Linked DNA regions of Homo sapiens: region 1 is linked to region 2. The links come from fine-mapping of genetic effects on gene expression. A gene starts in region 2. The other region holds a variant in brackets. All regions are shown on one strand. Distances are from middle to middle.

Region 1 (10,786 bases), 150 kb before region 2:
TAAGTATTACAACCGCTTTAGAAAATTTGGTAGTTTCTTACAAGATTAAACGACCACCTGCTCAATGACCCAGTAATCCCACAACTCCTCGGTATTTACCCAAGAGAAACAAAAATCTATCTACAGACTTGTTCACAGAAATTTTATTCATAATAGGTAAAAAGTGAAAACAATCCAATGCCCATCAGTAGACGAACAAAGAATAAAGTGTGTGTGTGTGTGTGTGTGTGTGTGTGTGTGTGTGTGTGTGCGTGGTTTGAGATGGAGTCTTGCTCTGTCGCCCAGGCTGCAGTGCAGTGGCACAATCTCAGCTCATTGCAACCTCTGCCTCCTGGGTTCAAGCAGTTCTCCTACCTCAGCCTCCGGAGTAGCTGTGATTACAGGGGCCGATCACCACCACGTCTGGCTAATTTTTGTATTTTTAGGAGAGACGAGGTTTCACCATGTTGGCCAGGCTGGTCTCGAACTCCTGCCCTCAGGTGACCCACTCACCTTAGCTTCCCAAAGTGCTGGGATTACAGGCATAAGCCACCATGCCCAGCCAAGAAACTGGTATATTTATACAATAGAAAACAAAAGAACAAATTATTGACTTAAACGTGTATCTTGGTCTGTTTTGTGCTGCTATAACATAAATAAACCTCAAACAAACATTATATTGAGCAAAAGCAGCCTGATACAAAACATTACATACTGTAGGATTCCATTTACATGAACTTTTACAACAATCAAAACTAATCTATAGGCTGGTCACGGTGGCTCACGCCTGTAATCCCAGCATTTTTGGGGGCCAAGGCAGGCAGATCACTTGGGGTCAGGAGTTTGAGACCAGCCTGACCAACATGGTGAAACCTTGTCTCTACTAAAAATACAAAAATTAGCCAGGCATGGTGGCATGAGCCTGTAGCCCCAGCTACTTGGGAGGCTGAAGCTGGAGAATTGCTTGAACCTGGGAGGCGGAGGCTGCAGTGAGCCGAGATCACGCCACTGCACTCCAGTCTGGGTAACAGAACAAGACACTGTCTCAAAACAAAACAAATCTATAGTGAAAGTAATCAGAAGGGCGGTTGTATCTATGGGAACTTCCTGTGGTGATGGAAATACTGTTATCCTAGCAGCGGTGTGGTCACATGGGTGTATCAATTCATCAATGCTATATCTGCACTATAATTCAGATCTGTACATTTCTCTGCAAATTATGCCTCAAACAATTTTAAAGGGGAAACAAGAATCTCTAATCTACAGCTATGTGAAAAAAGGAGGAGGGAACACAGACTATCAATGCTGAAGTTCTATTTCTTACCCTAAACTATCCTTTAGTCTTATACCATCCCAAATCAAAAGTTGTTACAATGAACCTAAATGAGCAGTAACAACAAAACTCTTAATCTAACAGTTCTCCAAACTCTTTTTCTTGTAAGCAAACTCTGAGAATGTTATTAGAACTTGTTTATTTCTCCATTGGTTCATATTACTCAGGCTTACATGTGTAGCTAGGATGGGCAAATGTAAGCATACTTTCTCTTTTTCATTTTTTTGAGACAAGGTCTCACTCTGTCACCCAGGTTGGAGTGCAGTGGCACGATCATAGCTCACTGCAGCCTCAAACTCCTGGGCTCAAGCAATCCTCCCACCTCAGCCTCCCAAGTAGCTGGGACTACAGGCACACACCACCACACCTGGCGATTTTATTTTTCTGCAGATGGGGGTCTCACTGTATTGCCCAGACTGGTCTCAAACTCCCAGGCTCAAGCCATCCTCCTGCCTTGGCCTCCCAAAGTGCTGGGATTACAGGCATGAACCACCATGCCCAGTGTCTTTTTAAACTTTTGTTTGATAGATTTAGGGGGTACAGATGCAGTCTTGTTACATGGATATGTTGCCTAGTAAAGTCTGGACTTTTAATGTAACTGTCACTCTAATAAAAGTATACATTCTACCCAATAGGTAATTTCTCATCCCTCACCCCCATCCCACCCTTCCACCTTTTCCAAATTCTTTCTAAATATGCCTCACAAAGTTGGAAGAAGCTATGCTTTCTTAACTTGCCATTATTTCTCATCGATGTTTCCAATTGTTGGGGGTTTTCTTCAGTTCTCAGGTATTTGCTTCTATTGATAGTTTGCGAGCTAGTATTTAGAGAAACTTCACCTTTTGCCTACAAAGTCAAAAGCTGCAGGAGAAACTTCACCTTTTGCCTACAAAGTCAAAAGCTGCAGAGGCAAAACCTGCAGTTCTGAGAGAAACGGGCTAGATGGCAGTGCTGTTCTCAGTGACATTTCTCAATTTACGAGGGGAAAAAACATCCCCTAGTCTTGAACGGGTTTACTAAAGCCCACGTATAAGGATCTCATTATAAAATACAATTTAAGCAGAAAATATTATGTAAGTGATTCTATGCCCCTTTCTAATTACAGATCTTCAGAAACACAGTCTAACCTGAGAGACTCCCCTAAAGTCTTTGCCAGTCAGATTTCCGCATTATACTACTGCCATGTGCCACATCATGACATTCTGGTCAACAGACCACCTAGAGGACAGTGGTTCCATAAGATGATACTATATTTTTCTTGTACTTTTCCATGTTTAGATACTTACCAATGTGTTACAATTGCCTACAGTAGGCCGGGCACGGTGGCTCACACCTGTAATCCCAGCACTTTGGGAGGCCAAGGCGGGTGGATCATGAGGTCAGGAGATCAAGATCATCCTGGCTAACATGGTGAAGCCCCGTCTCTACTAAAAATATAAAAAATTAGCCTTGCATGGTGGTGGGCACCTGTAGTCTCAGTTACTCAGGAGGCTGAGGCAGGAGAACGGCGTGAACCCAGGAGGCAGATCTTGCAGTGAGCCAAGATTGCACCACTGCACTCCAGCCTGGGCGAAAGTGCGAGACTCCCTCTCAAAAACAAACAAACAAACAAACAAAATTGCCTCCAGTATTCGGTAGTCACATGCTGCAGAGGTTCTTAGTAGAGGAATAGGCTCCACCAGATAGCCTAGGTGTGTCATACGCTGTACCATCTAGGTTTGTCTAAGTGTACTCCATGACGTTCACACAACAAAATCGCCTAATGGCACAGTTCTCAGAACGTATCCCTGTCAAGTGACACACGACTGCACTTCTCTGAGGTTATAATGGCATCTTTCTCTTGCTTAAAAAGCCTTTTCAAATGAATGTACTAAGATCTTCCAAATACAAAAGTGAATCCAGAGAATAATCAAGAACCTGCCTAAAGGCCGTAGTACTTCCTCGCCCCAGTATTTCATTACAGCATTTGCTACTGTGCCCTAGTTTCTCAGTGAGTCTTAACGTGGCATCAGGAACTGGGTCATGTACATCTTCTGTCTTCCTTAGAGTGGTTACTTTATGGTGGAGAGAGAAGATGCTTAATAAATGCTTTGTTACCTGAATTCCGATTATTGAGATACTGCCTGTGCTTCTAAATGGAAGCAAGCCTGAACTTTTCAGAGTAGAAAGTAGGTTTTGGTTAAGTTACTTTGAGCTTAGGCAATTCTGAATAAATAGCCTGGAAGCAAATATACACGACCACATGCGGTCTAGGATACCTCATTTACTGTGGTCTCTTAATTCCCACTTTTAATACTCCATCTGCAGCTTAGCACTTTGTGATTGAATGTGTATTCTTTTGACTTCTTGGGTTTTTTAGTACATACTGTTTTAAACAGGAACTATGGCTGCTTATAACACAGACCAAACCTAACAGAGGCTTTAAAAAGTTAATTTCTCTCCCACATAAAAGAAGTCTCCAGGTAGGCAGTCCAGGCTGGTGGGATGGCTCTATGGTTGAGAGGAACCCAGATTCTGCCATTGTTTGTCAATGGTTTCCATTCTTAAGGTCCCCTCAAAGTTGAAGATGGCTGCTCAAGCACCAGCCATCATGTGTGCACTCCAGGGAAGCAGGAAGACATCTAAAGGAATGAAAGGGCCCAGCGGTAACCTGTCTCCCTTTTAAGGGAGGAGGCTTTAACCACTTCCTGCTTTCATCTCATTGGTCAGAACTAGCCACATGGCCATGCCTAGCTGCAAGAGATGCTGGGAAACGTAATCTCGTAGGTAAACACACTGCTGCCTTCTCAAGAGAACCAGGTTCTGTTACAGAACAGAAAAGGGGGAAAAACAGTATAAATTCTGCCACAGATAACAACTCATGGATTTATGTATTTTTGGTGAGTAAGTGTGATCAGATGCATGCATTGGCATAATCGTGTTCCCATCTATCCATGGCTCCCTCTCTCCCTTTACCCTCATTACCACCCAGTTCCATCATCTCCCACCTTGGATGACCGAGGTCATTATCTAGAACATCCTTCCACGTTGTTCTCTGTGCTCTTAATCCCATCCCGACATGCACAAGCACATACACACTTACACAGATACATCTATGTGCGTTTTCTGGTTACTGAATTTTTTTTTTCCACAGTCTTACTCTGTTGCCCAGGCTGGAGTGCAGTGGCACAATCGCGGCTCACTGCAACCTCCACCTCCCGGGTTCAAGTGATTTTCCTGCCTCATCCTCCCAAGTAGCTGGGATTACAGGCACGTGCCACCATGCCCAGCTAATTTTTTGTATTTTTAGTAGGGATGGGGTTTCACCATGTTGGCTGGGCTGGCCTTGAACTCCTGACCTCAAGTGATCTGCCTACCTCAGCCTCCCAAAGTACTGGGATTACAGGTGTGAGCCATTGCACCCAGCCTGGTTACTGATTTTTAGGAAGATATTACGCACACTTTTGCATCTTTCTTTCTCACTTGCCGTATCTTGTGGACATCTTTTCAGGCCAACAGCTGTAACTCTCACCTCACTCTTCACATGGCTGCACGGTATTTCTTGACATTGACTGCTATAACATGTTTACCGTTTCCTTTTGTGTGACATTCATCATTTCTAGTGTTCAGTTATTACACTGTACAGTTGTCCTGACATATCTAAGTCAAAGGATATGCCTGTTTTTAATTTTCCCAGATGTTGCCAGATTGACTTCCAAAAGAAACTTTAAGACTTCATACATTTACCAGCAATATGCAAGTATTTCTTCCCTCCACCTCCCCAACAACAAGCCATACAGCTCTTTTTAAAATCTTGCCAGTCTATAAAGCTCACTGATTTATGATTCCCTTACTACTAAGGAATTTGAGCATTTTCACGTGTTAGTCATTTGGACAGTTATTCATATCATTGTCGTGGTTTCCTGTTTGACTCTTGTGCTCTTCCCTGACAATTTTTTAAAATTTTATTTCTCAGAGTCTTGCTGTCACTCAGGTTAGAATGCAGTGGTGTATTCATGGCTCACTGCAGCCTCAAACTCTTGGGCTCAAGCAATCCTCCCGCCTCAGCCTCCTGAGGTACTGGGACTACAGGCACTCACCACCTGTAACTTTTTTTTTTTTTTTTT[A/TA]AGACATCAGGTCTCAGTCGGGCACGGTGACTCACACATGTAATCCCAGCACTTTGGGAGACCAACGCAGGCAGATCACTTGAGGTCAGGAGTTCGAGACCAGCCTAGCCAACATGGTGAAACCCCATCTGTACTAAAAAAAAATACAAAAATTAGCCAGGCGTGGTGGTGGGCACCTATAATCCCAGCTACTCAGGAGGCTGAGGCACAAGAATCACTTGAACCCGGGAGGCAGAGGTTGCAGTGAGCCGAGATCACACCACTGCACTCCAGCCTGGGTGACAGAGTGAGACTCCATCTTAAAAAAAAAAAAAAAAGAGGGAGAGAGAAAGAGATCAGGTCTTACTGTGATCTTGAACTCCTGACTTCAAGCAATTCTCCTGCTTTGGCCTCCCAAAGTGCTGGGAATACAAGTGTGAGCCACCACTCCCAGCCTTGCCTGACAATTTTTAAAAAGGTTTTTGTGTATACATATTAACCCTTTGTTGTTTACATCAATCTATGCAATCTAACCTATCCACTGATTGGTTATGGTATCTTTTGCTATATGAGGTTTTTAAAATGTTATATCGCCAAACATGGGTATCTTTTGCCATATGGAGTTTTAATGCTTATGTATTCAAATATGTTTGTATCTTTTTACATGGCTTCTGATTTTCCAATCTAGGTTAATATTACCTAAAATGTGCATACAGTAGAATTCTATTCTTAGGCATTTATTCATCTCCACAAATTTTAAGATACTTTTTATCCAATTCCCAAAAGACACTGTTGAGATTCTAATTGGAATTACATTTTCGTATTAACTTGGGAGAGTTGACAAAAGTTATATGAAATCTTCTCAGCTGCGCTTTTTCAGCCATCTGGATTTTACGTCTTTTTTTTTTTTTTTTTTTTTTTTTTGAAACAGAGTTTCGCTCTTGACATCCAGGCTGGAGTGCAGTGGTGCAATCTCAGCTCACTGCAACCTCCATCTCCTGGGTTCAAGCAATTCTCCTGCCTCTGCCTCCTGAGTAGCTGGGATTACAGGCTCATGTCACCACACCCAGCTAATTTTTGTATTTTCAGTAGAGATGGGGTTTCACCACGTCAGGCCAGGCTGGTCTCGAACTCCTGACCTCAGGTGATCTGCCCACCTCGGCCTCCCAAAGTGCTGGGATTACAGGCGTGAGCCACTGCACCTGGCCAATTTTATGTCTTTCAATAAGATCTCAGTTTTCTTCACTTAGGGATAGGTCCTACACCTTTATTCTAAAACATCTTATTTTTTTTCACCACATACATAGAATGTCTTTTGTTTTGTTTTGTTTGCTTGTTTTTTTGAGATGGAGTCTCGCTCTGTTGCCCAAGCTGGAGTGCAGTGAATCTCAACAGTGTCTTTTGGGAATTGGATAAAAAGTATCTTAAAATTTGTGGAGATGAATAAATGCCTAAGAATAGAATTCTACTGTATGCACATTTTAGGTAATATTAACCTAGATTGGAAAATCAGAAGCCATGTAAAAAGATACAAACATATTTGAGTACATAAGCATTAAAACTCCATATGGCAATCTTGGCTCACCGCAAGCTCCGCCTCCCAGGTTCACGCCATTCTCCTGCCTCAGGCTCCCGAGTAGCCGGGACTACAGGTGCCCGCAACAACGCCTGGCTAATTTTTTGTATTTTTAGTAGAGATGGGGTTTCACCGTGTTAGCCAGGATGGTCTTGATCCCCTGCCCTCGTGATCCACCCACCTCGGCCTCCCAAAGTGCTGGGATTACAGGCATGAGCCACCGCGCCTGGCCACACAGAATGTTTTCTCCATTGCTAGGTTCTTATTGCCACAGCGGAGAAGCCCATGGCTTTTGTATCTTTAGCTTATATCCAGAAGCCTTAGCAAAATATGTTATTATAGCAGGGGGTCTTCTAGGTTATGCAGAAAAAGAATTCACACAGCAAGCCCAAGATTGCACTCCTTAGAAAGGTCTGCTTCCAAAGTTGGCCCTTGATTGGCAGCCGGGAGCCTGAATTTTAGGAGGGTTCCCACCATTCTCTGACATGGGTGTCTCACTGTGCCTCAACTATTTGAACAAACAATGTGGTCTACACTGAACTGGGAGTCTGTAATTTTGGCACATGCTAGGCAGAGGGTTCCTACATGACCAGTCCCCAATAAAAACATGGGCACTGAGATTCTGATGAGCTTCCCTGGCACACACACTTCACCCACATTATCACAACATGCTGTGGACAAACTAAGAATGTCCTGTGTGACTCCCCCAGCAGAGGACCTGATTTTCTCTGGACTTCATCCCGTGTCTTTTCCCTGTGATTTTCTCTGCATCCTTTCACGATAGTAAATCTCACCCATGAGCACAACTGCATGCTAAGTCCTACAAGTCCTGGTGAATTACTGAACCTGGGGTGGACTTGGGTATCCTCAACACGTGTACACATCAGAGCAGCAAAAAGAGCTTTCTCTCTTCTTGTCTAATGTTACGTCGGTTATTTCATCTTTCTTTTCTCATTATAATTTCGGGCCTTCAAGTGATTGTTAAGTAACAGGAAGAGTACACATCCCTGACCAGTTTCTAATTTTAACTGAAATGGCTTTAATGTTTTGCCACTTAAAAGAACGTTTACCATTATTTTTTGATTTTCATCACATTTCAGTATGGGTAGTCCTTACTTTACACAGCTGTGATATGCACGCATTTCTGTTACCATAGTTCAGTAACAAAGCCCCCCCCCCCAACAGCACAATTCAAGTACCGGTCTCCCTGGCATACAACCGTGAGAAACCGCACGAAGAGTAAACTGTGCTGCCAACTCTTCAACCCACAAATGTGCAAATCACAGGTGTGCATCAGATCAGGAACCCATCCCGACACTTCTTTCAAAGCCCATCAGGAATTGATCACTGAGCACCTGTTATTCAGCTCACACAGAAAAGTTTGTTGCCTCCTTGCCTCCCAGTGATAAGCCCACACGACAGTTTATGAAAATGGAAAGAGGGAACCAACCCACAAAGGTGAAAATGCAGCAAAGAAATGAAATGTGACAACCCTGGAAGTGACATTTGAATGAAACCTAAGTGAGGTCACAGAGAAAACAGCTGAGGGAGGGAACGTGGACGCTGCTGCCAACCAGGGGCTCCAGCGGTGCAGCCAGAGAGGCTGAGAGGGGGCAGCCTGTCTGCGTAAATGAGTGTATTAAGGTGCTCTAAAGGGACAGAACTAATAGGATGTACGTATATACAAAGGGGAGTTTATTAAGGAGTATTGACTCCCACAATCACAAGGTGAAGTCCCACAATAGGCCGTCTGCAAGCTGAGGAGCCAGGAAGCCAGTCCGAGTCCCAAAACCCTCAAAGCAGGGAAGACAACAGTGCAGCCTTGTCTGTGACCAGAGGCCCAAGAGTCCCTGGCAAACCGCTGGTGTAAGTCCAAGAGCCCAAAAGCTAAAGAACTTGGAACATCCAACACGGGAGAAAGATGAAGGCTGGAAGACAGTAAGTCTCTCTCATTCCACTTTCTTCTGCCTGCTTTACTTTAGCCACGCTGGCAGCTGATGAGATGGTGCCCACCCAGATGGAGGGTGGGTCTGCCTCTCCCAATCCGCTGATTCAATGTGAGTCTCCTTTGGCAACACCCTCACAGACACACCCAGGATCAATACTCTGCATCCTTCAATCCAATCAAGTTGACACTCAGTATTAATCTTCACAATGAGCAAACAGTTGTGACGAGAAGGATGAAGACAGCCTCGGGGGTGTGACGCCAGCAAAAAACCGCAAATGAAAGGAACTCTGGGAGGCATTTTGCAACACGGGATGTGCAAATGATACAGTGTTGGAAGCCGATCCAACTAGAAAGGAGCGTGGCAACTCAACAGGCCCCGGAGAAGATGCTCGGCCAGAAGCCCAGAAGCGGAAGTTGTAGGAAGAGGCAGTGGCGGCAAGTGCTGTTTAAACTACTATTGACGGGACTTTAGAAAGAGACAAAATGCTTTAATCCCAATGTTTCTAGTGTTTCAAATCACAGTGTGCTAAATACATTAGTTTTACTGCTCTTTTCATTTCTCTACACATTTGTAACCAATAACAAACAGTGGGAGTTTTTACTGTACTGCTTCACAGGTGATGGAGCAGCTGCTTCTCAGTAGGATTGCTCTGCACAGTTTCGGCTTGCAGAACCACCATTTTTATGATGCTGGCCCTCCATGCAATGCAAAAACTACTGTAGCTTTTTCCTATTTCTATTTTACATGTTTTATTTCTTCTTTTAAGTTAGGAATGGGTGCTGAACCTCAAATGGATCCCTTTTCAGTATCCGCTGATAGCCACATATGATTTTCCCACGGCATCTACATGGGGCTTGGCCAATGATTCTGGCTACAGGTGAAGTTCACAAGACAGCTGCAGGAGCACATCCAGGCTTGACTAGAGGCCTCGTACACCTGCTGCTGCTCAGAGGTGCATTGAGAAAAAACCTATGGCTGCAGGGTGAAGAATAAGAGAAGAGGCAGCAATTCGAAATTAGGAAACTCCATCTACAAGGCACCCTGACTCCAAAATCACAACCCTGTTGATATGGTTTGGCTCTGTGTCCCCACCCAAATCTCATGTTGCACAGTAATCCCTAATGTTGGGGGAGGGACCTGGTGGGAGGTGATTGGATCCTGGGGGTGGATTCCCCCTTGCTGTTCTCGTGATAGTGAGTTCTCACTAGATCTGGTTGTTTAAAAGGATGTAGCACCTCCCCCTTCACCCTCTCTCTTCTGCTCCACCATGTGAAGATTGTACCTGCTTCCCCTTCACCTTTCTCTATGATTCTAAGTTTCCTGAGATCTCCCCAGCCATGCTTCCTGTACAGCCTGCAGAACCATGGGCCAATTAAATGTCTATTATCAATAAATTACCCAGTTCCAGGTATGTCTTTAGAGCAGTGTGAGAACAAATGAATACAGAAAACTGGTACCAGAGAAGTGGGGCAGTGCAATAAAGATGCCTGAAAATAAGGAAGCAACTTTGGATGGAAGTGGGTAACGGGCAGAGGTTGGAACAGTTTGGAGGCCTCAGAAGAAAACAGAAAGATGAGGGAGCGTTTGGAACTTCCTAGAGACTTGTTGAATGGTTGTAACCAAAATGCTGATAGTTATATGGACAGTGAAGTCCAGGCTGAGGTGGTGTCAGATGGAGATGAGGAACTTACTGAGAACTGGAGTAAAGGTCACTCTTGCTATGCTTTAGCAAAGAGACCAGTGGCATCATGTCCCTGCTCTAGAGATCTGTGGAACTTTGAACTTGAGAGAAATGATTTAGGGTATCTGGAAGAAATTTCTAAGCAGCAAAGCATTCAAGATGTGGCCTGGCTGCTTCTAAAAG
Region 2 (10,786 bases):
ACCTCCTGCATAGCTGGAACTACAGGCTCACGCCACCACCACACCGGCTAATTTTTTATATTTTTAGTACAGACAGGGGTTTCGCTGTGTTGCCCAGGCCAGTCTCAAGCTCCTGGGCTCAAGCAATCTGTTTGGGAGCCCTTGGCCTCCCAAAGTGTTGAGACTACAAGCATGAACCACCATGCCCAGTCATGTTTTTCAAAAAATAAGAAAAAAGGTAATCATAAAGTAATTGAGACTCATGGTATGTCATTCAGCATTGATTGGAAAATATTGTAACTTCACACTGTATGTGGAGGCTAGGACATAATTCAAAATTTTACAAAATATATTGAAACCACTTGAAGCAACTCCAGAACTCACACTTGTTTTGTTTTGTTTTTTGTTGTTGTTTTGAGACGGAGTCTTGCTCTGTCACCAGGCTGGAGTGCAGTGGCGCGATAGCTCACTGCAACCTCTGCCTCCCAGGTTCAAGCAATTCTCCTGCCTCATCCTCCGGAGTAGCTGGGACTACAAGCATGCACCACCATGGCTGGCTAATTTTTTGTATTTTAGTAGAGACGGGGTTTCACCATGTTGGCTAGGAAGGTCTCAATCTCCTGACCTCATGATCCGCCCGCCTCGGCCTCCCAAAATGCTGGGATCATAGGCGTGAGCCACCGCGCCTGGCCTGTTTTTCTAGGATGTTGCTGTTACCGTGTGCTGTCATCCTTTGTTGATGTCACAATGAATACGATTTTAAGTGGAAGATGCTTTTCAAAAACATTTTCTGGGGGGCATTTTCTATATTCTTTGATCTTTTGGGCTACTAGCTAATCCTTCTGAGTTTTGATTTTTTTTTTAATTGCAATCCAAAGATACTCTCTTGATGCTTCTTTGGAAATTTGCCAATTTGGAAAGTTGCCATAGTGTTTCCTGACCAAACACTAGTTAACATTCTGAATCATCACAGACTGAATGGCTTTGAGCACCTTTCATTTGATTCAGTAGTTCTCGGTGCTCCCAACTCACTTGGTCAAGTTCACCTTGCATTGCTGTCCAAAGTTCAGAGTTAAAAGAAACAGCTTGGGCTGGGCGCGGTGGCTCACGACTGTAATCCCAGCACTTTGGGAGGCTGAGGTGGGCAGATCGTGAGGTCAGGAGTTCAAGACCAGCCTGACCAACATGATGAAACCCCATCTCTACTAAAAATACAAAAATTAGCTGGGTGTAGTGGCGCGCACCTGTAATCCCAGCTACTCGGGAGGCTGAGGCAGGAGAATCGCTCGAACCCAGGAGGTGCAGGTTGCAGTGAGCCAAGATCGCACCACTGCACTCCAGCCTGGGCGGCAGAGCAAGACTCTGTCTCAAAAAAGAAAAAAGAAACAAGAAACAGCTTGACATCAGATAGATCTTCATGGACTTGTCACATCTAGGCCAGAACACATGGGAAGGCCACTGAACCCCTAGTGAGCCATGGTATTTTGGGAAGGTTTTGCATATTTGCATTCACTGAGCATTTGAGCGTCCACCAAAAAGGGGAAACTAACAGCTGAGAGCAGTTACAAATGGTGTTGGTGCCATTCAGCAGCACTCTCCTCAAAGCAGAGGAAGCTGTGCTCGAAGTAGCTTGCTGTCTTCTCCAGCCTTCCTACCACAAGATGCAACATTCTGCACTTTGAATAAATCTGCTGGAGTGGCCCTTTCCTTAAACATTTAGGTTTTTTTGGCCGGGCGCAGTGGCTCACACCGGTAATCCCAGCACTTTGGGGGGCTAAGGCGGGCGGATCACGAGGTCAGGAGATCGACACCATCCTGGCTAACTCGGTGAAAAACCATCTCTACTAAAAATACAAAAAATTAGCCTGGCGTGGTGGCGGGCGCCTGTAGTCCCAGCTACTTGGGAGGCTGAGGCAGGAGAATGGCGTGAACCCGGGAGGCAGAGCTTGCAGTGAGCCAAGATCACGCCACTGTGCTCCAGCCTGGGCGACAGAGCAAGACTCTATCTCAAAAAAAAAAAAAAAAAAAAAAGAAACATTTGGTTGTTTTTTTTTTTTAAGATGTGCGTTTCTTAGGGTGTTTTGGATTTGAAACTAAAGACATTAAAACTCTCTTGGTCTGAGCACAGTGGCTCACGCCTGTAATTCTGACACTTTGAGAGGTCAAGGTGGGAGGATCACTTGAGGCCAGCAGTTCAAGACCAGCCTGGGCAACATAGCAAAGTCTATTGATCTCAAGTCTAGTTGGAAGTTCAGAAGCTCTGTCTTGAAGCAGCTCTCCATGATGTTCTTCCTTAAGTTTTTCCTAAATGCTTGTTCTCGTCCTCAGCAGTGTTATAAGTCATTATAAATCTAAAACTCTAAAACATTTTTACTATAGGACAGTGGTTCTCAAACCTGGTTCTGTCTCAGAACCCCTTTACACTCTTAAAAGTTGCTGAGGACCCTAAAGAGATTTTGTTTATGTGGGTTATGTCTATCAGGGATTACAACTGAGAAATGTTTTTACTTATTTATTTTAAAATGATAAACCCGTTTGATGTTAAACAGTGTATTTTTCTAAAACGTCACTATGTTTTCCAAAAAACATTGTGTGTGTGTGTGTGTGTGTGTGTGTGTGTGAGAGGAATAACACTTTTACATTTTCAAAGATCGCACCACTGCACTCCAGCCTGGGCGACACAGCAAGACTCCATCTCAAAAAAGAAAAAAAATGATTTTAACTGGATCTTGAGCCTTTTATTATTTTATCTTGACACATCTGAGCTCGTTTTCCTTGTGCCTGAATAATGAACATTTATTTTACTGTGGATCTGCTTGTGATTATTTCAGTCCTAGCTGCACCATTTTATAAACCCCCCACCATTTCACAGACCCTGGTCGGAGTGAAACATTCCATGGGGGCTCTGACCATAAGAAACATCCTGCCCAACTGCCTGACTGCGGGAACATCCTTATCACATCCTGCCAGGCAGCAAGCCATACTGCCCAGACCCATCCAGCCCAGACCTATAATTACCCCAGCCTGGAAGCGGCAGTGAGCTCGGGCACTAAACTGGTTATCCGCTCCACGGGTTTTTGCTGGCAATAAACCTGTGTTGCTGTTGAAGCCACCATCTCTCTCCCCTCTCCCCTCCCCCCCTCCCTCTGTGTGTGTGTGTCTGTCTTGTCTGTCTTTAACCCTTGCCTTCCCTTCAAAACCTAATAATTTCCTCTTTTTTTTTTTCCTTTAAAGATGGGATCTTAATACATTGGCCAGGCTGGTCTCAAAATTCTGGGCTCAAGCAGTCCTCCCAAAGTGCTGGGATTACAAGCATGAGCCACCATGCCTAGCACGATTTCCTCTTAGTTTGTCCTTAACTGTCTTTATTTTACCTTCTTTTCTGAATGCCAATTTCCCTGTGTATAGAATTCCCTGTGTATAGAATTCTTGATTGGTGGTTACTTTCTTTGAGATTTTATCTTTATCTTTTCTATGGCTTTATTGTGAGATTTCAAGGTATTGATTTATTTTTATTTATCTGCCTGCTTGGTTTCTGTAAGGCTTTTTGTTTGTTTTTTGTTTTTTGTTTTTGTTTTTGAGACGGAGTCTTGCTCTGTTTCCCTGGCTGGAGTGCAGTGGCGCCATCTCTGCTCACTGCAAGCTCCGCCTCCCGGGCTCACGCCATTCTCTCACTCAGCCTCCGGAGTAGCTGGGACTACAGGCACCCACCACCACACCCAGCTAATTTTTTTGTATTTTTGGTAGAGACGGGGTTTCACCGTGTTAGCCAGGATGGTGTGGTGATCCGCCCGCCTTGGCCTCCTAAAGTGCTGGGATTACAGGCGTAAGCCACCGCGCCTGGCCTCTGTAAGGCTTTTTGAATCTTTGGCATGATTTTTTTCTCATCACTTTTGGAAAATTCTCAGCCATTAGCTCTTCAGATATTTCTGCCTCACCTCTTTAATTTCCTTCTAAGATACCAATTACCCATATGATTGGTATCTTTCCTGCTGTATCCCTCTTATTTTCTGAATGGCTTCTTCGATCTTGCAGTTTATTCTTTAACTGTCTAATCTGCCAAATCCATCCAATTTTTTGTTTTGTTTGTTTGAGACAGAGTCTCGCTCTGTCGCCCAAGCTGGAATACAGTGGCGCCATCTCAGCTCACTGCAGCCTCCACCTCCAGGGTTCAAGCGATTCTCCTGCCTCAGCCTCCCAAGTACCTGGAATTACAGGTGCGCACCACCACCACACCCAGCTAATTTTTGTATTTTTAGTAGAGAAGGGGTTTCACCATGTTAGCCAGGCTGGTCTCAAACTCCTGAACTCAAGCAGTTTGCCTGCTTTGGCCTCCCAAAGTGCTAAGATTACAGATTACAGGCCTCCCAAAGTGCTGAGCCACTGCGCCCAGCCTCCATCCAATTTTTATTTGGCTTTTTTTTTTTTTTTTTTTTTTTTGAGATGGCGTTTCACTCTTGTCGCCCAGGCTGGAGTGCAAAGATCTCGGCTCACTGCAACCCCTGCCCTCCGGGTTCAAGTGATTCTCCTGCCCCAGCTTCCTGAGCAGTTGGGATTACAGGCGCCCACCACCAAGCCCGGCTAATTTTTGTATTTTTAGTAGAGATGGGGTTTCGCCATGTCGGCCAGGCTGGTCTTGAACTCCTGACCTCAGGTGATCCGCTCGCTAAATTTTTTTCTTTTATGATTTCTAGTTCTCTACTGGAAAATATTTCTGAAAAAAAAAATATATATATATATATATATTTTTAAGACTATTAAGCCCAGTGTCTGGAGCCCCTGTGGAAGTTTTATATTATCTGCTGAGAAGAATATGCACAGAATACAGACATAAAAATATGCAGAGCAGGCCGGGCGCGGTGGCTCAAGCCTGTAATCCCAGCACTTTGGGAGGCTGAGGCAGGTGGATCACCTGAGGTCAGGAGTTCAAGACCAGCCTGGCCAACATGGTGAAACCCCGTCTTTGCTAAAAATACAAAAACTAGCTGGGCTTGGTGACCAGCGCCTGTAATCCCAGCTATTCAGGAAGCTGAGGCACGAGAACCGCTTGAACCCGGGAGGCGGAGGTTGCAGTGAGCCGAGATCGCGCCACTGCACTGCAGCGTGGGCGACAGAGTGAGACTCCGTCTCCAAATATATATATTTTATACATGCAGAGCTAAATAATTAACAATAGAAAGGGACAAGACACACCACTGAAATGGGAGACTTGACTTAGTCTTTAACGTCACAGTAAAGAGGGTCCCTTTTCTTAGGTTAACCAACCCTCCCGGTATGTCTAGAACTTTCCTAGTTTCAGCGTTGAAGGTCCCGCGTCCCAGGAAACCCATCAGTCGTGGGAAGATGTGGAGGATTAGCCAGCCCACAGTGACACACGCGGGCACACCCCTAACGCACCCTCTCCCCGCCCCTTCTTGCCTGCGACACCAGGCGGCCGCCGGGGGCGCTGTGGTGCGGAGGCGCCGCTGGGGAGGCACTCTGGCCTTGCGGCGTCTCTGCTGCTTCCGCCTTCCCGGCATCCCCTGCGCGCGCCTGCGCGCTCGGTGACCTTTCCGAGTTGGCTGCAGATTTGTGGTGCGTTCTGAGCCGTCTGTCCTGCGCCAAGGTGAGTACGGGGACCTGGACCTGGCTCCCGAGGTGCGAGACGGCGGGGGCGGGAGGGCGAGAAGCCGCCTTGGCCCCAGCTGATCTTGGGGTTCCACCCCTCCGCCGGCACGCGCCTGCTTTTCTGCCCGGCTTTCCCTTCTCTGAAGGGAGGTAGGCCAGGGTCGGTTGCCAGAGGGAAGCATCGCCTAGGCCTGCGCCGCGTTTCCCTCCTTGGCCTTAACGCGCTCAGTGCACCTGAATTCTCCCACGGTTTTGACAGGGAGCGTACCTTGGCCTTGAGAGGTTCAGCTGCCTAACCCAGAGGCTACGCAGAGTTAGAGAAGCCAGAGTCCAAGCCAAGAACTCTGACTCCACATCCAGTCCCTTCTCTCCTTTATAACTCAAGTTTCCTTGCGCCACACTGCCCTCCACGTTATGCTGTACATGACAACTTGGGTGAGGCAACAGGGAAGCTGAAAAGAGATCATACGGTGCTGAATGAAATTGTATGGAACTCGCGGGTCAGACATTTCCCATTTCCAGTGTCAGGTAATAGTTCGCCCTTAATGTAATGTGCCAAAACTTTGCAGACTTAAGTGGATACAGTAGACACACGTTTGGCCTATGAATAAGATGGATTTTTAAAAGGTCTGGTGCTGTAAAACTGACACACACAGCTAGGAAATGTGCCTGGGCAGAATGGACTCAAGAAAGGGGCCGGCCGGGCGCGGTGGTTCACGCCTGTAATCCCAGCCCTTTGGGAGGCTGAGGCGGGCGGATCACGAGGTCAAGAGATCGAGACCATCCTTACCAACATGGTGAAACGCCGTCTCTACTAAAAATACAAAAATTAGCTGGGTGTGGTGGCAGGCACCTGTAGTCCCAGCTACTCGGGAGGCTGAGGCAGGAGAATCGCTTGCACTCGGTAGGCGGAGGTTGCAGTGAGCCGAGATCGCGCCATTGCATTCCAGCCTGATGACCGAGTGAAACTCCGTCTTAAAAAAAAAAAAAAAAAAAAAAGTAGGGGCTGTCGTTTTATTATGTGTTGGGAATATGTAGCTGGGCGCGGTGGCTCACGCCTGTAATCCCAGCACTTTGGGAGGCCGAGGCGGGCGGATCACGAGGTCAAGAGATCGAGACCATCCTGACTAACACGGTGAAACCCCGTCTTTACCAAAAATACAAAAAATTAGCCCAGTGTGGTGGCACGCGCCTGTAGTCCCAGCTTCCCAGCTACTCAGGAGGCTGAGGCAGGACAATCGCTTGAACCCTGGAGGCGGAGGTTGCAGTGAGCCGAGATCGCGTCACTGCATTCCAGCCTGGGTGACAAAGCGAGACTGTCTCAAAAAAAAAAAAAAAGTAGGGGCCGGACGCGGTGGTTCACGCCTGTAATCCCAGCCCTTTGGGAGGCTGAGGCGGGCGGATCACGAGGTTAAGAGACCGAGACCATCCTGGCCAACATGGTGAAACCCCGTTTCTACTAAAAATACAAAAATTAGCTGGGTGTGGTGGCGGCCTCTTGTAGTCCCAGCTACTCGGGAGGCTGAGGCAGGAGAATCGCTTGCACCCGGGAGGCGGAGGTTGCAGTGAGCCGCGATCGCACCATTGCACTCCAGCCTGATGACCAACTGAAACTCTGTCTAAAAAAAAAAAGGGGGGGCCCTCGTTTTATTATGTATTGGGAACATGTCACTTGTCCAGGCAAATATGGCAACTGAAGTCAAGGGGAAAGGAAGGGAAAGGTATTTGCAAGCTACTGAATAGCAGGCCCCTGTTGCACTGGGGACTAAGGGTAATTTTGTAAGGAGACCATACCAGGGTGCCTGGGCCCGGAGCACAATGTCAGCATGACTCAGTTTCTTTAGTCCCTTCTTACCGTAGTCATTGTACCCTCCCAGTTTACTTTGCCCTTTTCCTTATAGACCCTCATCTTACCTTGTTCTGTCCAAAGCCCCTACCTGGCCTAAATGAGGGCGTCTTTTTAAGCCTTCCTTCTTGTTAGAGTCCCAGTGGCTTAGTATTAATTATAGCCATGAACTGGATATTTGTATCAATTCTGTTACTGCTGTGATCAGTCACTGAATTCTTTTTTTTTTTTTTTTTTTAAGATAAAGGGGGAGTGTCTTGTTGCCCAGGCTGGAGTGCAGTGGCACGATCTTGGCTCACTGCAAGCTCCGCCTCCCGGGTTCAAGCGATTCTCCTGCCTCAGCCTCCCGAGTAGCTGGGATTACAGGCGCCCACCACCATGCCCAGCTAGTTTTTGTATTTTTAGTAGAGATGGTTTCGCCATGTTAGCCAGGCTGGTCTCAAACTACTGACCTTAAGTGATCCGCCCACCTTGGCCTCCCGAGATGCTGGGATTATAGGCGTAAGCCACCGTGCCCAGTCCATTCTCTGGATTTTTATTCCGTACCAGGCACTAGGCACTAGGCTGGGTCCTTTAGGTTTCTCCTTTGTTTTTGTTTTTGAGATGGAGTCTCGCTCTGTCACCCAGGCTGGAGTGCAGTGGTGCAATCTTGGCTCACTGCAAGCTCCGCCTCCCGGGTTCACGCCATTCTCCTGCCTCGGCCTTCCGAGTAGCTGGGACTACAGGCGCCCGCCACCACGCCCGGCTAATTTTTTGTATTTTTAGTAGAGACGGGGTTTCACCGTGTTAGCCAGGATGGTCTTGATCTCCTGACCTCTTGATCTCCCTGCCTTGGACCCCCAAAGTGCTGGAATTACAGGCGTGAGCTACCGCTCCCGGCCTTGGTTTCCTCTTTGAATTGCATTGACAGCCCTCTGGGGGCAGGTGGAGGTATCCCTGTTTCACAGAAAAAGAAACCTCTGGGTTGAGCCTGGTGGCCCACGCCTGTAATCCCTGCACTTTGGGAGGCCGAGGCGGGCAGAACACAAGGTCAGGAGATCGAGACCATCCTGACTAACACAGTGAAACCAAGTCTCTACTAAAAATACAAAAAATTAGCCAGGCGTGGTGGCGGGCACCTGTAGTCCCAGCTACTCGGGAGGCTGAGGCAGGAGAATGGTGTGAACCCGGGAGGCGGAGCTTGCAATGAGCCGAGATCCGCCACTGCACTCCAGCCTGGGTGACAGAGCGAGACTCCGTCTCAAAAAAGAGAAAAAAAAAAACCTCTGAAACAACAGCTAAAGGGACTTGCCCACAGTTGAGAGCTGACCAGGCAGAGCTGGTGTTGGAGCCCAGGATTCCCAGGCTTCCAAACCCATCGGTCCTGTAGAATGCTTCCTTCCCAGTCGTTGCTGAGAGACAAGGGATTCACTCCATGCCTCTGAACTCCTAGTCTGGGGCTTCCAGAAACCTCCTCTGGGTCTTGTTTGGATCATCTGTGACATATTCCCAAAGCAGGGCTGTTCGTTTCTTGGAACCTCACACTGTCAGAGCATTCGAGTAGCTTGAGGACAGGAAATTTGAGGGCGGACTATCTGCAAGGTGTTCCAGGAGAAGGACACAGTCGCATCCTGCAAGGTCAGACCTCAGGCCACCCTCACGACCATCCTTGCCTAAATAAGTCCTCTCATAGGGAAGAGCAGGAAAGCAGGTGTTGGAGGTAGGTTCTCGTCATCAGGAGCATGACGTACAGATTTGGTGTGAGTGCAGTCCTGCTAACCTGCTGCGGGATCCGAGTACCCGCTTTATAGGAGCTTTCTCCAAGTACCCACTTTATAGGAGTGGGAAGCAGTGTAGGAAGTAAGTACGAAAAGCACTTTTAAAATGCTGTTAAAGGGCTAGAGACAGAACTAACCACAATCAGGGCAGTCCCTGCTGTAGCTCCGGCCTGGCCTCCCCATTCTTGCCTGACTCAAGACACTAACTTAGTTCCTGGTTCGGTGCCCTGTTGGTGCTCCTCTGTCCAGTAGCTTAGCTCCCACGGTGGGGGAGGAATCGAAGGGGCTCTGCAGCCCCCACCAGCTGCCCTCGAATCCCATCCAGGCCAGTTCCAGATTCTAAACTGAATTTTCTTCATATTGTCAAAACGGGAAACAAAAAAACCCTAAAGCAAAAAAAAAAAAAGTTGTTAAATTTAGAGAACAGTTTTAGAATAAAAGCTAAATTCTATGCTAGCCTCCAAGGCCCTTAAATGACATGGCCCATCTTCCTTCCCATAGTCCAGCCATGGTATTTTATGTAACAAGCATTTAATATACAGTACCAGACACTCAACATTTGACATAGAGTTATTCTATGTTATTCTCCATAACAACCCCTTGAGGTGGATCCTGTTTTTATCCCTGTTTTACAGATGAGAAAACTTAAGCGGTTTAAGTTAGCTAGTAAGTGACAGCCAGGATTTGAATCTGGCACTGTGGCCTCCCTATTCCTTCCAGCTCTCCGAGTTCATTCTGACCTCGGAGTCTCTGCCAATGCCGAGGATTCCTCTCCCAGATATCCTGACCCTTTATTGTTTCTCAGCTCCTAAAACAATGTCTGGCACCTAGTACATGCTCAGTGCACATTTGCCAAGTGAATAAATGACCACACGATCCGGGTTTCAGTGATTTGAGGGCCGCCATTTGACCTTTGACTAGGTTGGGCTTGTGAAGGATTCAGTGCGGTAAAGCTGACACACACAGCTGCGCAGTGTGGGAAAGGGAGCACACTGCCGAGCATTCGGATTCTTTGGATCCTGAGCAGTGATGTGAAAGGAGCAGTGAGTGGGTGGAGGGAGGGAGGGGTGGAGGCAGCATTACAGCCGCAGCCAACGCGCAGTTCTTTCTTTCTTTTTTGAGACAGAGTCTCACTTTGTCACCCAGGCTGCAGTGCAGTGGTGTGATCATGGCTTACTGCATCTTCAACCACCCAAGCTCAAGCAGTCTTCCCACCTCAGTCTTCCAATAGCTGTGACTAACATAAAAAATTAGCCAGGCAAGCACCACCACACCTGGTTAATTTTTTATGTTTTGTAGAGACGGGGTCTCCCTATGTTACCCAAATTAGTCTCGAGCTCCTGGACTCAAGTGACCCTCCCACATCAGCCTCCCAAAGCGCTGGGATTACAGGCATGAGCCACCACACCCAACCAAAGCAGTTTCCAAGTGAAATGAGAAGTGCTTAGATCTAGTCACTCCTGACAGCTATTTGACTGTAGTTTAATGGACCACTTCAGATGTTAAAAAGCATATTAAAATGAAAATGAGGGCATCTAATTTGCGGTCTATAGTAGAGAGTAAATTGTAAAAGTAACAAAAAGCATTATTTTGAGAC

What was found.
Region 1: its variant is fine-mapped to the expression of ATP5MJ in whole blood (INTERVAL, PIP above 0.99).

The regions. Positions count from the first base shown.
Region 1 is chr14:104,067,211-104,077,996 of GRCh38, reverse strand. No RefSeq gene overlaps it. Among named protein-coding and RNA genes, the nearest start is that of ASPG, 13 kb to the left of the region's middle. The variant A/TA (reference allele first, on the strand shown) is at 5,419.
Region 2 is chr14:103,916,268-103,927,053 of GRCh38, reverse strand. ATP5MJ (ATP synthase membrane subunit j) reads left to right here and starts at 5,525. Exons shown (of 4, transcript NM_004894.3): 1 at 5,525-5,584. RefSeq lists silencers at 5,332-5,501, 5,388-5,560 and an enhancer at 5,195-5,870.